3 linked regions of the Homo sapiens genome follow. The protein of the gene in region 3 purifies or fractionates together with the protein of the main gene of each other region. This does not show direct contact. Each region holds a gene or a part of one and is shown on either strand. Other genes may lie near its edges. The genes, in order: ZC3H18, IGF2BP3 and RBM42.

What was found.
Region 1: the proteins of RBM42 (region 3) and ZC3H18 purify together in Homo sapiens (affinity purification with mass spectrometry; 2 studies listed by BioGRID and IntAct, with this or other methods). This does not show direct contact.
Region 2: the proteins of RBM42 (region 3) and IGF2BP3 purify together in Homo sapiens (co-immunoprecipitation; 2 studies listed by BioGRID and IntAct, with this or other methods). This does not show direct contact.

What each region holds. Positions count from the first base shown.
Region 1 is NC_000016.10:88,622,320-88,625,968, reverse strand, and holds part of ZC3H18 (zinc finger CCCH domain-containing protein 18), read right to left. Parts: coding exon 3,581-3,649; intron 2,751-3,580; coding exon 2,625-2,750; intron 2,012-2,624; coding exon 1,907-2,011; intron 1,368-1,906; coding exon 1,224-1,367; intron 768-1,223; coding exon 702-767; intron 1-701.
Region 2 is NC_000007.14:23,313,387-23,317,035, forward strand, and holds part of IGF2BP3 (insulin-like growth factor 2 mRNA-binding protein 3), read right to left. Parts: intron 268-3,649; coding exon 136-267; coding exon of another isoform or gene 83-135; intron 1-82. UniProt on the Homo sapiens protein: RNA-binding factor that may recruit target transcripts to cytoplasmic protein-RNA complexes (mRNPs). This transcript 'caging' into mRNPs allows mRNA transport and transient storage.
Region 3 is NC_000019.10:35,635,002-35,638,225, reverse strand, and holds the end of RBM42 (RNA-binding protein 42), read right to left. Parts: intron 1,069-3,224; coding exon 874-1,068; intron 785-873; coding exon 672-784; 3' UTR 541-671; downstream 1-540. UniProt on the Homo sapiens protein: Binds (via the RRM domain) to the 3'-untranslated region (UTR) of CDKN1A mRNA.

The sequences.
Region 1 (3,649 bases), on a different chromosome or scaffold from region 3:
CGCCTGTAGTCTCAGCTACTCAGGGGGCTGAGGTTGAATCCGGGAGGCGGAGGTAGCGAGATCGCGCCATTGCACTCCAGCCTGGGCAACAAGAATGAAACTGTCTCAAAAAAAAAAAAAAAAAAAAAAATCTTTTTCTGTGGAGATGGGGTCTATGTTGCTCAGGCTGGTCAAGTCCTGGGCTCAAGCAATCCTCCTGCCTTGGCCTCCCACGGTGCTGGGATCACAGGTGTGAGCCGCCGCACCTGGCCCACAAAGCTTTTCCATGTATTCTCTTCTCAGATGTTTTTATCGGCTTCCCCACCCCCTCAGGCCGGTTCCCTCGACAGGTGTGATAGGTCACGCAGGCCCAGCCTCTGCCCTGCTGGGCTGGAAGCTGCCGGCTCCTCCCCAGGTGCAGGTGCTCTCTCAGGGTGCTGGGCATCAAGTCAGCAGGGCAGAGGCACCTCCTCCTGACCTGAGTGCCCCCGAGTTTGTGAATCTTTTTTTGGTGGGGGGAGGGGGTCTTCCTATCACGAGTCCTGGCCCATTTTCTCCTGTGTCAAAGCTTCAACCGCAGCCTTCCACAGCCCCAGGGTGACTCAGATCCAGAAGGGCCCCAGCCCACCTGTGGGAGACAGCCCAACCCACACTGGCTGCTTCTGGGACTTCCTGGCCCCGACGGGGAGGGAGAAACAGAGGCACAGGGTGATGGGGATGACCTGGATCGGGAGCTGGAACCACTATAGCTGCTACCACTGCCACTGCCGCTGCCGCTTAGCGTCCGCCTGTAATACAAGCAACAGCGGGGCTCAGGGGGCGTGGCCTCCACAGCCCCTCGCGGCCTCCCCTCCCCACCAGCAGCCCTGTGAGGTGAGCCTCCAGACTGGCCTTGCTACCACCTTGGAACAGGGCCTGGGCCTGTCTTCCTTTAGGCTCAGTGTTTTGTCAAGATAAAAAGTACAGTCTCTCGGGGGCAGCACCTTCCAGTGCAGACGGGGCCATGGCGGGAAGGCCTGTGCTCCGTGCCACGCTGTCCCTTCCCCTTCACGCTCCAGAAACACAGGCTCAGGGAGGGGACAGGGCAGGTTCCCGGGTAAGGGCTCACTGGGTGCTGCTCGGCTAGGGGGCGCTTCCCACCACCTGGCTCTGGACCCTGGCACTCTGGATTTCCAGCAGTGCCAGCATCACAGTGGCACCAAGAACACGGAAAGCCTGAGGGCCCCGGACGCCGGAGTGCTCACCTCCTGGGGGGGGTCCTGGCTGGCCGCTCCTTCCTCCTGGCTTCCCGAGGGTCTCCTGGCTTGGTGGGCTCGGGGACAGGAGCAGTGGTTTTGGTGGCCTGTGGTGGGGCTGGAGGCGGGGCCGGCTTCTTCACTGACTTCTCTCTGTGAGACAGGGAGGCTCGAGCAGGGCAGGGCTGGTGGACGGGGCCCCGCTGGCCTACATCCCCTTTCAATGGACCCACAGCTCGGGGAACGACACTGCATGCCTGTGACGCTCGGTGAGCACGCTCGTGCCTGGACACGGCTCCCCACCCATCGGTGTCAGAGTGCTTGGGAACGGCTTCAAAGCCCCCAGCAGCCCTTCCAGGCTCCCCTCTAACAGGCAAGAGCTACAGGCACCGCCAGGCAGTGGGGAGAGCAGGCTAATAGGAAGACCCCTTAAGAACACCCGGCTGCTGCCGTGTCCCCAGGGCTGTGCTCTGTCCCCAGGGTTCCCGAGGGAGTGCTGCTGTGTAAGGGTGGCCCGTGAGAACAGGAGCTGTGCCCAGTGCCTCCCAGCCCAGTCACCCCCTGGGGCCAGCCCCCTGAGGCATCCTCACCTCTTTGGTCCCAAACACAAATGAGAGATAGAGACGGAGGGAGGAGGCTGCAGCCTGTGGAGGCCTGGCCGGCCAGGACTTGCCCACAGGCTGGGCACTCACCCTGCTTTCCCGGGCGGCGGGGCCGGCTCTCCCTTGGTTCTGATGGAAGGTCTATGTGGGGAAGGTGTTGGGGACGGGGACGGGGACGAAGAGAAGGACCGGGACCTAGGGGAGTGAACAAAGGTGTCGGAAGGGGCCTGGGGGTGTTTCTTCACCAGCCCAAGCCCACTGAGGACCCACCCAGACCCATGGAGAAGGCCACGAATTTCCATTTATGTGCCTCAGTTTTAACTTCAGTTCTGGACTGTTCTGTCATCTGCTAAAAACACAGGCCCAGAGTAGACCAGAGAGCGTGGAAGGTGTCAGCATCCACTGGCGGGTCCTCCGGGAGGCGAGTGTCACGTTCATGTGTGTGCAGGACAGGAGGAGACAGGCTCCTTGGCAGTGGGGCAGCAGCACAGCTCCCATAGAAACACCCACAGGACAGGGCTGGGTCTGGCCCCTTCCTCGGCCTGTCTGCGGAGGACTGGAGTGCCTCAACTCGAGGATCTCAGGCTGTGGCCCTCAGTGACAGCACGCATCTACACAAGGACGAGGGCCCGCAAGGCTGGTGTTTGGTGGGGGACACAGGACACGACCCCCTGGCCATCCTAGTTCAGCTGCCAGCAGGGACCTTCAATACCCCAAGGGGCTACTGGCGCCACAACTAAAGCCACATCCGCAGGTGCCCTTGCTCACTGCACCTGCTGAGGGCCCTTCATGGGCCCTGGGGACATACCTGGACCGGCTTCCTGAGAACGAGCTGTGTCTGGAAGAGCGGCTGGAGTAGGAGCTGTAGGATGAAGACCGGGATCGCGACCGGGAGGAGCCGGAGCCAGAGTAGGACGATGACCGCGAAGACGACCTGGGGCGGGCGGGACGGAGCGTGGCGAGAAGTGAGAAGGGCCCTCCCTGCCCCACACGCCCTGACGCACACATGCACAGCTACACACCCACAGACGCACAGCTACACACAAGCGCACAGCTGCGCACGCGCGCACAGCTGCAGACGCGCGCACAGACGCATACAGCCTCCCCCAGACACTCTTCAGTGCCATCCCTCCTTGGTGCAGAACGGCATTTAGAAATCAAGACCTGGGCGTGGGGTGTGCCTGCTGTTACCGGGTGGCGCTGCCTGAGTGGGCAGACCCAGCTCACGTGGGTCCGTGTGTGTGTCTATCTGTTCATCTGCATCCACTTTCAGTGAAGCCTGGCCTCCCACCCACACCTCCTGTTCCTGCCGAGCATGATGGGGTCTACCCCGGCCCCCTGCTTTCCATCATCCCTCACTCGGGAGCCGGGCTCCTGTGTGCTGAGACCAGGACCGTAGGTGGAGGGGCAACAGTTTCAGGTCCAGTCTGGAGGAACAGATGGACTCACTGGGCCCCAGGTCTGTGCGTCCTCCCGCATCCAGGTGCCCCTCCCTCCAGTGTGGCCTGTGACTCCCTGGGAGCAGTCAGGCTCAGTCGCCGGGGTCTGTGCCCCATTTGGGGTCACTGCGTCAGTCCTACTTGGCATTGATGCTCTTTGCTGAAGGTATAAACGCCGGGTTAGTCCCACTGACTGGTCTGCAGGTAACGACGCCACAGCAAACAGTGGGGCTGGGGTGTTCCCCACCTGACCCAGTGAGGTACATGGTGTCAGCTGACGGCTCCAAGGTGCTGACACCCCAGCCGTCCCACGAGCCCTCCTTACCTGGAGGAATTAGAGGCAGAGGCTGACGAGGCTGATGTTTTCCGACGCCTTCGAGCCCGGCTCGGGGAG
Region 2 (3,649 bases), on a different chromosome or scaffold from region 3:
GCAATCTTCTCCAAACCTTGGTCAAGATGGTCCTGCTTTTTATAAATTAGCCAAAATTCGGGGACTTGGAACTCCTAAGTACCTTTCAACGCTTTCCCTTTCATACCACTGCACAGGTTTTGCTGAAGTACTTGCCGTTTTGCCTCCTTTTCCAATAACTCTGCCAGCAGCAAAGGATGGCACTCTGATATGAGCTTCAAGTTTCACCTCTTCTTTAGGACTAACAAAGTTTTCTTCTTTAATTTTTCCATAAATTCTTCCCTGAGCCTGCAGATGAAAACACATCCTATTAGTGTCATTCATGTATGAAATGGAAAAGGTCAGTTAACTTGAAAGATGGCCCAAATCCAAGTGGGATAGCCCTTTGCAGTGATACATCTACATTTCATAGATTGTTGAAAATAACATAGAAGAGAGCAGTTAGAAGTCCTAAAAGGTTGACAATAACTACTGCCCATCACAGTAGAGGCAACTGAATGCTTGGTGAAAGAAGGATAAACCATATTCTTCTGATGAAAACAGTTAAAGGCAATTAATAACCTAATAAAAACGAATTTTTGTGGGCAAATGGCCATTCGTACTAAAATTGTGATAGGTAAAACTTCTCATGCTGGCCATGAGACATCAGTTGCATTTTTCTTTCCTTTTTGTTGGAGTCAGGGTCCTCCTGTTGTCCAGGCTGGAGTGCAATGGTACAATCATAGCTCACTGCAGCTTCAACCTCCTGGGCTCAAGCGATCCTCCTACCTCAGCCTCCTGAGTAGCAGACTACAGGCATGCAACACCACACCTGACTTATTTTTTTTTTTTTTTTGAGACGGAGTCTTACTTTGTTGCCCAGGCTGGAGTGCAGTGGCACGATCTTGGGTCACTGCAACCCCCGCCTCCCAGGTTCAAGTGATTCTCCTGCCTCAGCCTCCTGAGTAGCTGGGACTACAGGCACTAGCCACCACACCTGGCTAATTATTTTTGCATTTTTAGTAGGCATGGGGTTTCACCATGTTGGTCAGGCTGGTCTCGAACTCCTGACTTCAAGTGATGTGCCCACCTCAGCCTTCCAAAAGTGCTAGAATTACAGGTGTGAGCCACTGCGCCACTAATTTTTATAGAGATGGGGGTCTTGCTATGTTGCCACGCTCATCACAAACTCCTGGGCTCAAGAGTCCTGCCTTGGCCTCCCAAAGTGTTGGTATTACCAGTGCAAGCCACCACACCTGGTCACATTTTTTTTGAGCAAAAGAGACAGAACTGCAGAGTCAGCTATGCCAAGCTCACTAAAAGTCAAGCTCACATCTACATGGGCCAGTTAGAAACCTGCTGAGAAAAATGTTTTCAATTTAAATGTGTTTCATACTCTTAGAAAGGTGGTTTTTCCTTTGAATATTTTAAAGAGGCTACAACATCAAGGTAAGACACTTTTTTCTTTTTTGAGACAGAGTCTCACCCTGTCATGCAGGCTGAAGTGCAATGGCATGGTTTCGGCTTACTGCAACCTCCGACCCCCGGGTTCAAGCCATTCTCCTGCCTCAGCCTCCCAAACTAGCTGGGATTACAGGTGCCCGCCACCACACCCAGCTAATTTTTTGTTGTTATTTTAGTTGAGACGGGGATTCACCATGTTGGCCAGGCTGGTCTTGAACTCCTGACCTCAGGTGATCCACCCACCTTGGCTTCCCAAAGTGTTGGGATTATGGGCATGAGCCACTCACTGTGCCCTGCCTTTTATTTTTTTTTATTTTTTTATTTTATTTTTTTTAGAGACAGAGTCTCTTTCTCTGTGGTGCGATCTCAGCACACTGCAACCTCTGTCTCCTGGGTTCAAGTGACTCTCCTGCCTCAGCCTCCTAAGTAGCTGGGATTACAGGCATCCACCACCATGCCTGGCTAATTTTTGTATTTTTAGTAGAGATGGAGTTTTGCCATGTAGGCCAGGCTGGTCTGGAACTCCTGGACTCAAGTGATCTACCCACCTAGGCCTCTCAAAGTGCTGGGATAGCAAGCGTGGGCCACCGCGCCTGGCCAAGACACTTCTGATATTTAGAGTCAATACATCCTATCACCTACTGCATGCAACTATATAAACAACCTATTATATATAAACAACCTATTACATACAGCAAAGCAGAAAGGAGCCTGAGAGTTGGTTTGACAAGCTGCCAGGGTAAACCACAAAAAACAATAGTACCCAACACGCGTTCACTGATTCAGAAAGCTGAGCTCATTTTAGGGCACTACCGACAAAACAAAATTCATCTTGATACCCTATATTCCAATGATCCTTAATGCCTCAGGCCAATGACGTAGATATTACTATTACTTAAGACAGTCAAAAAGACACTAGGGATATACACTATCCTCCAAAACTGAAGCTCTTGAATTTGTAAGGAAAAATACGGGGTAGGTGGTTTACCATTCCTTAGATCTCTAAAGTAAAACATTCATTTAGCATTGTCACCAATCACATAAATAAAATTTAACTACTATGGCTTAAGTGTTACATTTAAGTTAACTATAAAACATGAGTTTTATTAGTGAATACAGGGAAAGAACTTTGAAGTTCCTATCATACAAACATCATAGGAGTTGCAGGACAGTAATTCTACTTATAAGACTAAAAGCTCAGCACCAAGGAAAGACATGTTTGTATTTATCTTTTAAGATTTCAAACTAAAAGTGACCCTGAGAGTTTGGGATAGGAAGCAGTTTTCAACAATTCTGAGTTAAGATTTGAACTGCCTGGATCACAAGGCTGCTGTGAAGGAATAAATTTCTTCACATGATTTTCTTTCTTCACCTAACCACCCACATCTCAAAGCACCTCCTTCGTTTCCCATTCTTCACATAAGTGAAAGCAGCTTTGGGTTTTTAGTGAAAAAATGGCCCAGAGAAAATAGAAGTCAAAGAAAGTGATTTTTTTTGTTTGATTTAAGGGAGAGAGGTGGGGTGGGGAGAGAACTGTATGCACTGTTACTAGTTACTGTTACACTTTAAGGCTAAAAAAACTAAGGCTTGGCCAGGAGCACAGTGGCTGATGCCTGTAATCCCAGCACTTTGGGAGGCTAAGGTGGGCGGATCACTTGAGGTCAGGAGTTTGAGTGTGTGGCCAACATGGTGAAACCCCATCTCTACTAAAAATAAATTGGCTGGGCGTGGCGGCACATGCCTGTAATCCCAGCTACTCGGGAGGCGGAGGCAGGAGAATCGCTTGAACCCAGGAGGTGGAGTTTGCAGTGAGCTGAGATCACGCCACTGCAGTCCAGCCTGGGCGACAGAGTGAGACTCTGTCTCAAAAAAAAAAAAAAAAAAAAGAGAAAAAAAAAACTACAGCTTAAGGTTAAATAGTTGTCTTCTTACACAGCCACTAAATGTTCTAAGACAAGACACCCATACTAAATTTTGTGGGAGAAATCATACACTAAAAGGAATATATTTATGAATTTGGCATGGTCTTAGTCTGATTCATCCATAGTCTGTTGAATACCCCCAGCACGCTAATTTTGTGCTGCCCATGTGTTAGGCACTTTTCTAAACATTTCATATATTGTGTAAACCTTAAACTACCTTAGGATGTAGGTGCTCTTATCCCTGGTTTTACAGAAAAAGGTTAAGTAACTTGCCCAATGTCATACAAGGCAAATGGCAGAGCTAG
Region 3 (3,224 bases):
GAGGAGACTTGGGGGTGGACGGTTCCTTCAGGAAGGGCCCCCTCACCCACAGGTCAGCGCCCCCATCCTGCCCTGACCACTCTGGGCTCTTATCGTCAGGGCACCGGGCCTATTTTCTGCACTGGACCTTGAGCTCTAACGGTGCAGGGCCCAGGACTTTTAGTCACCATTGTGTCCTCAAGCACTGTTCAGACCCTTGGTGAGAGTCTGCTGGATGGAAGAGGGCCTAGAAGCCTGTGAGCTCCAGAAGGGAAGGGCCTAGATCTCCTACCTTGGTGCTGAGAACACAGGAAGTAGCCAGGACACGGGGATGGGCCTCAGCTTGGCTTCACCCTTGCCATTGGCCCCCCTTTCTCCTCTGGAATAAGCAGCACTCAGCATGTGTGGAAGAGGTTTGAAGAGGGAATGGGTGCGCAGGAAGGGCTCAGAAGCCCCCGCCTGGGTGTTTGCCTGGGTAAACTCTCAAGGCTCCCCGCCATTTCCAGCTGTGGGGAAGCCAAGCCCTGCTCCCCACAGCGTGCTTCCATGCCCAGCCAGGGGTGGAAATGAACGTAAATTTATTGAAACTGGTTTTGGGGCAGGGGATGGGTGGACAGCTGGGGGTTTTCCAAAGAGAACTGAGGGAGGAGCCAGCGCCCGGCCAGGTGGGAGCGGGTGCCTGGCCACAGACCCTATCTCAGGCCCAGCTTCTTCTTTTCCTTCTGCTTCTTGCGGACCACGTCCAGATTCCGGTCCTTCCACATGCTCTTGCGAAGCTTGATGGGGCGCGAGCCCACATACTTCCCTGTGGAGACAGAGGGTTCAAGGCAGGCTCGGGTCAGGCTTAGGCCAGCGCCTGCCGCGCCTGCAGTTCCCAGGGGAGGCCGCACCCACCATTCATCTCACGCATGGCGCGCACGTAGTCGCTGGGGTCCTTGAAGCTGACGAAGCCGTAGCCCTTGGTCTTGCCTGTGCGCTTGTCACGGATCACCTTGGCCTTAAGGAAGGATGGGAAGCGGCTGAAGGCGCGTGCCAAGATGTCATCGTTCACCTCATTGCCCAGATCCCCACAGAAGATCCGGAAGTCATCTGGGGATGGGGAAGAGATGACATCAGAGGATGCAGAGGCCTTGCCCAGTGTCTACCTTGTCTGAACGATCCCACCTTTTCGGAGGTATCTAGTCTCTGCCTAGGGACCTCTTAGTAATAATGGTCAACACCTACTGACCCTGCGCCAGGAGCTCTGCTGGCACCTGGAGGGGTGTTTCCATTTCTGGCACTCCCAACCATGCTTTTACACTGAGGCACAGAGAGGTGAAGTCACTGCCCACAGTGACACAAGCAGGAAGCGGCAGAGCTAAGACAAGAGCTCAGGCATCTGGCTCCAGTCCTTACTTTTAACCTTGAACTGCACTGCCCTCCCCACCCCAGGGCCACCTCACTCATTCCTGTAGTAACACCCTTAACTCTGCCCTAGCCCTGGCCTTTCCTCTGAGCCTTGGTGTCCCTTGGTCCCCTGGACCCCTGTCACCCACTGGCTGCCCGTCATGGCACCTCAGGAACATGGGCTTCATCTTTCCTCAGCCCTGCTTCCTTGGCAAGGCCTGCCCTAACTCCCCCTTGAGACCTGGACATGCTGCCTGCTCCTCCGCCATGGCTGCACCCAGCTGACATTCTCATGCTGCCTCTGAGTTGGGCCTGTGCTTCCACTGAACATGCTCTGTCCCAATGAATCCCTGTCCCCACAAGGGAGGGGATGAGGAATATGAGGCTTAAAAGGCTAAGTGAGCCAAGCACAGTGGCTCACGCCTGTGATCCCAGCACTTTGGGAGGCTGAGGCAGGTGGATGACTTGAGCTCAAGAGTTCAAGACCAGCCTGACCAACATGGTGAAACTCCATCTCTACTAAACAATACAAAAATTAGCTGGGTGTGGTGGTGGGTGCCTGTAATCCCAGCTACTCGGAAGGCTGAGGTGGGAGAATTGCTTCAACCCAGGAGGCGGAGGCTGCAGTGAGCCAAGATTACACCACTGCACTCCAACCTGGGTGACAGTGCGAGACTCTGTCTCAAAAAAAAGAAAAAAAAAAAAAACAAAAGAAGAAACAAAACAAAACCAGGCTAAGTGACTTGCCCAAGGTCACAGAGCTAGGGTCTTCTCTGGGCCAGGTAGACGGTCCCAGGAGAGGGGGTGGAAGTCAAACACTGAAGCAGGAGGGGTCCATCTCCTTCCTCAGCCATTGCACGGCTGCCCCATGGCGTCTGTGATATGGGACACTCTAAGCACAAGTTAGGCAATGCCAGGAGCAAACAACCGGACAAACTCAGAAGGTGGGACATCATACATGACAACTGCCCTGGACACTTCAAAAAATATGTACAAAACAAAGAGGCAGGAAAGAGACCGTTCTTATTAAGATATAATCGAGGCTGGGCGTGGTGGCTTATGCCTGTAATCCCAGCACTTTGGAAGGCTGAGGCAGGCGGATCACAAGGTCAGGAGTTCGAGACCAGCCTGGCCAGCATGGTGAAACCCCGTCTCTACTAAAAATACCAAAAATTAGCCAAGCATGGTCGTGCGCGCCTGTAGTCCCAGCTATTCGGGAGGCTGAGGCAGGAGAATTACTTGACCCTGGCAGGTGGAGGTTGCAGTGAGCTGCCGAGATTGCGCCACTGCACTCCAGCCTGGGCGATGGAGCAAGACTCCGTTTCAAAAAAAAAAAAGAAAAAAAAAAAGATATAATTGAAGGACATAAAACTGCATGCATGCTGGTTCAGGGCAAAAACATTAATAGTTCTAACAGAGTTTTGGGACACCTAGGGAAATACGAATATAAACTGAAAAGAAGATACCGAATTAGTTAATGTTCTTAGACTTGATAATAGTATTATGATATGCAAAAAGTATCTCTTTTCTTTTTTTTTTTTTTTTTGAGATGGAGTCTTGTTCTGTTGCCAGGCTAGAGTGCAGTGGCCTGATCTCGGCTCACTGCAACCTCTGCCTCCTGGGTTCAGGCGATACTCCTGTCTCAGCCAACCGAGTAGCTGGGATTATAGGTGCCTCCCACCAAGCCTGGCTAATTTTTTTGTATTTTTAGAGACACGGGATTTCACCATGTTGGCCAGGCTGGTCTTGAACTCCTGACCTCAAGTGATCCACCTGCCTCCGCCTCCCAAAGTGCTGGGATTACAGGTGTGAGCCACCGTGCCTGGCCAAAATATCTCTTTTCTTAGGAGATAAATACT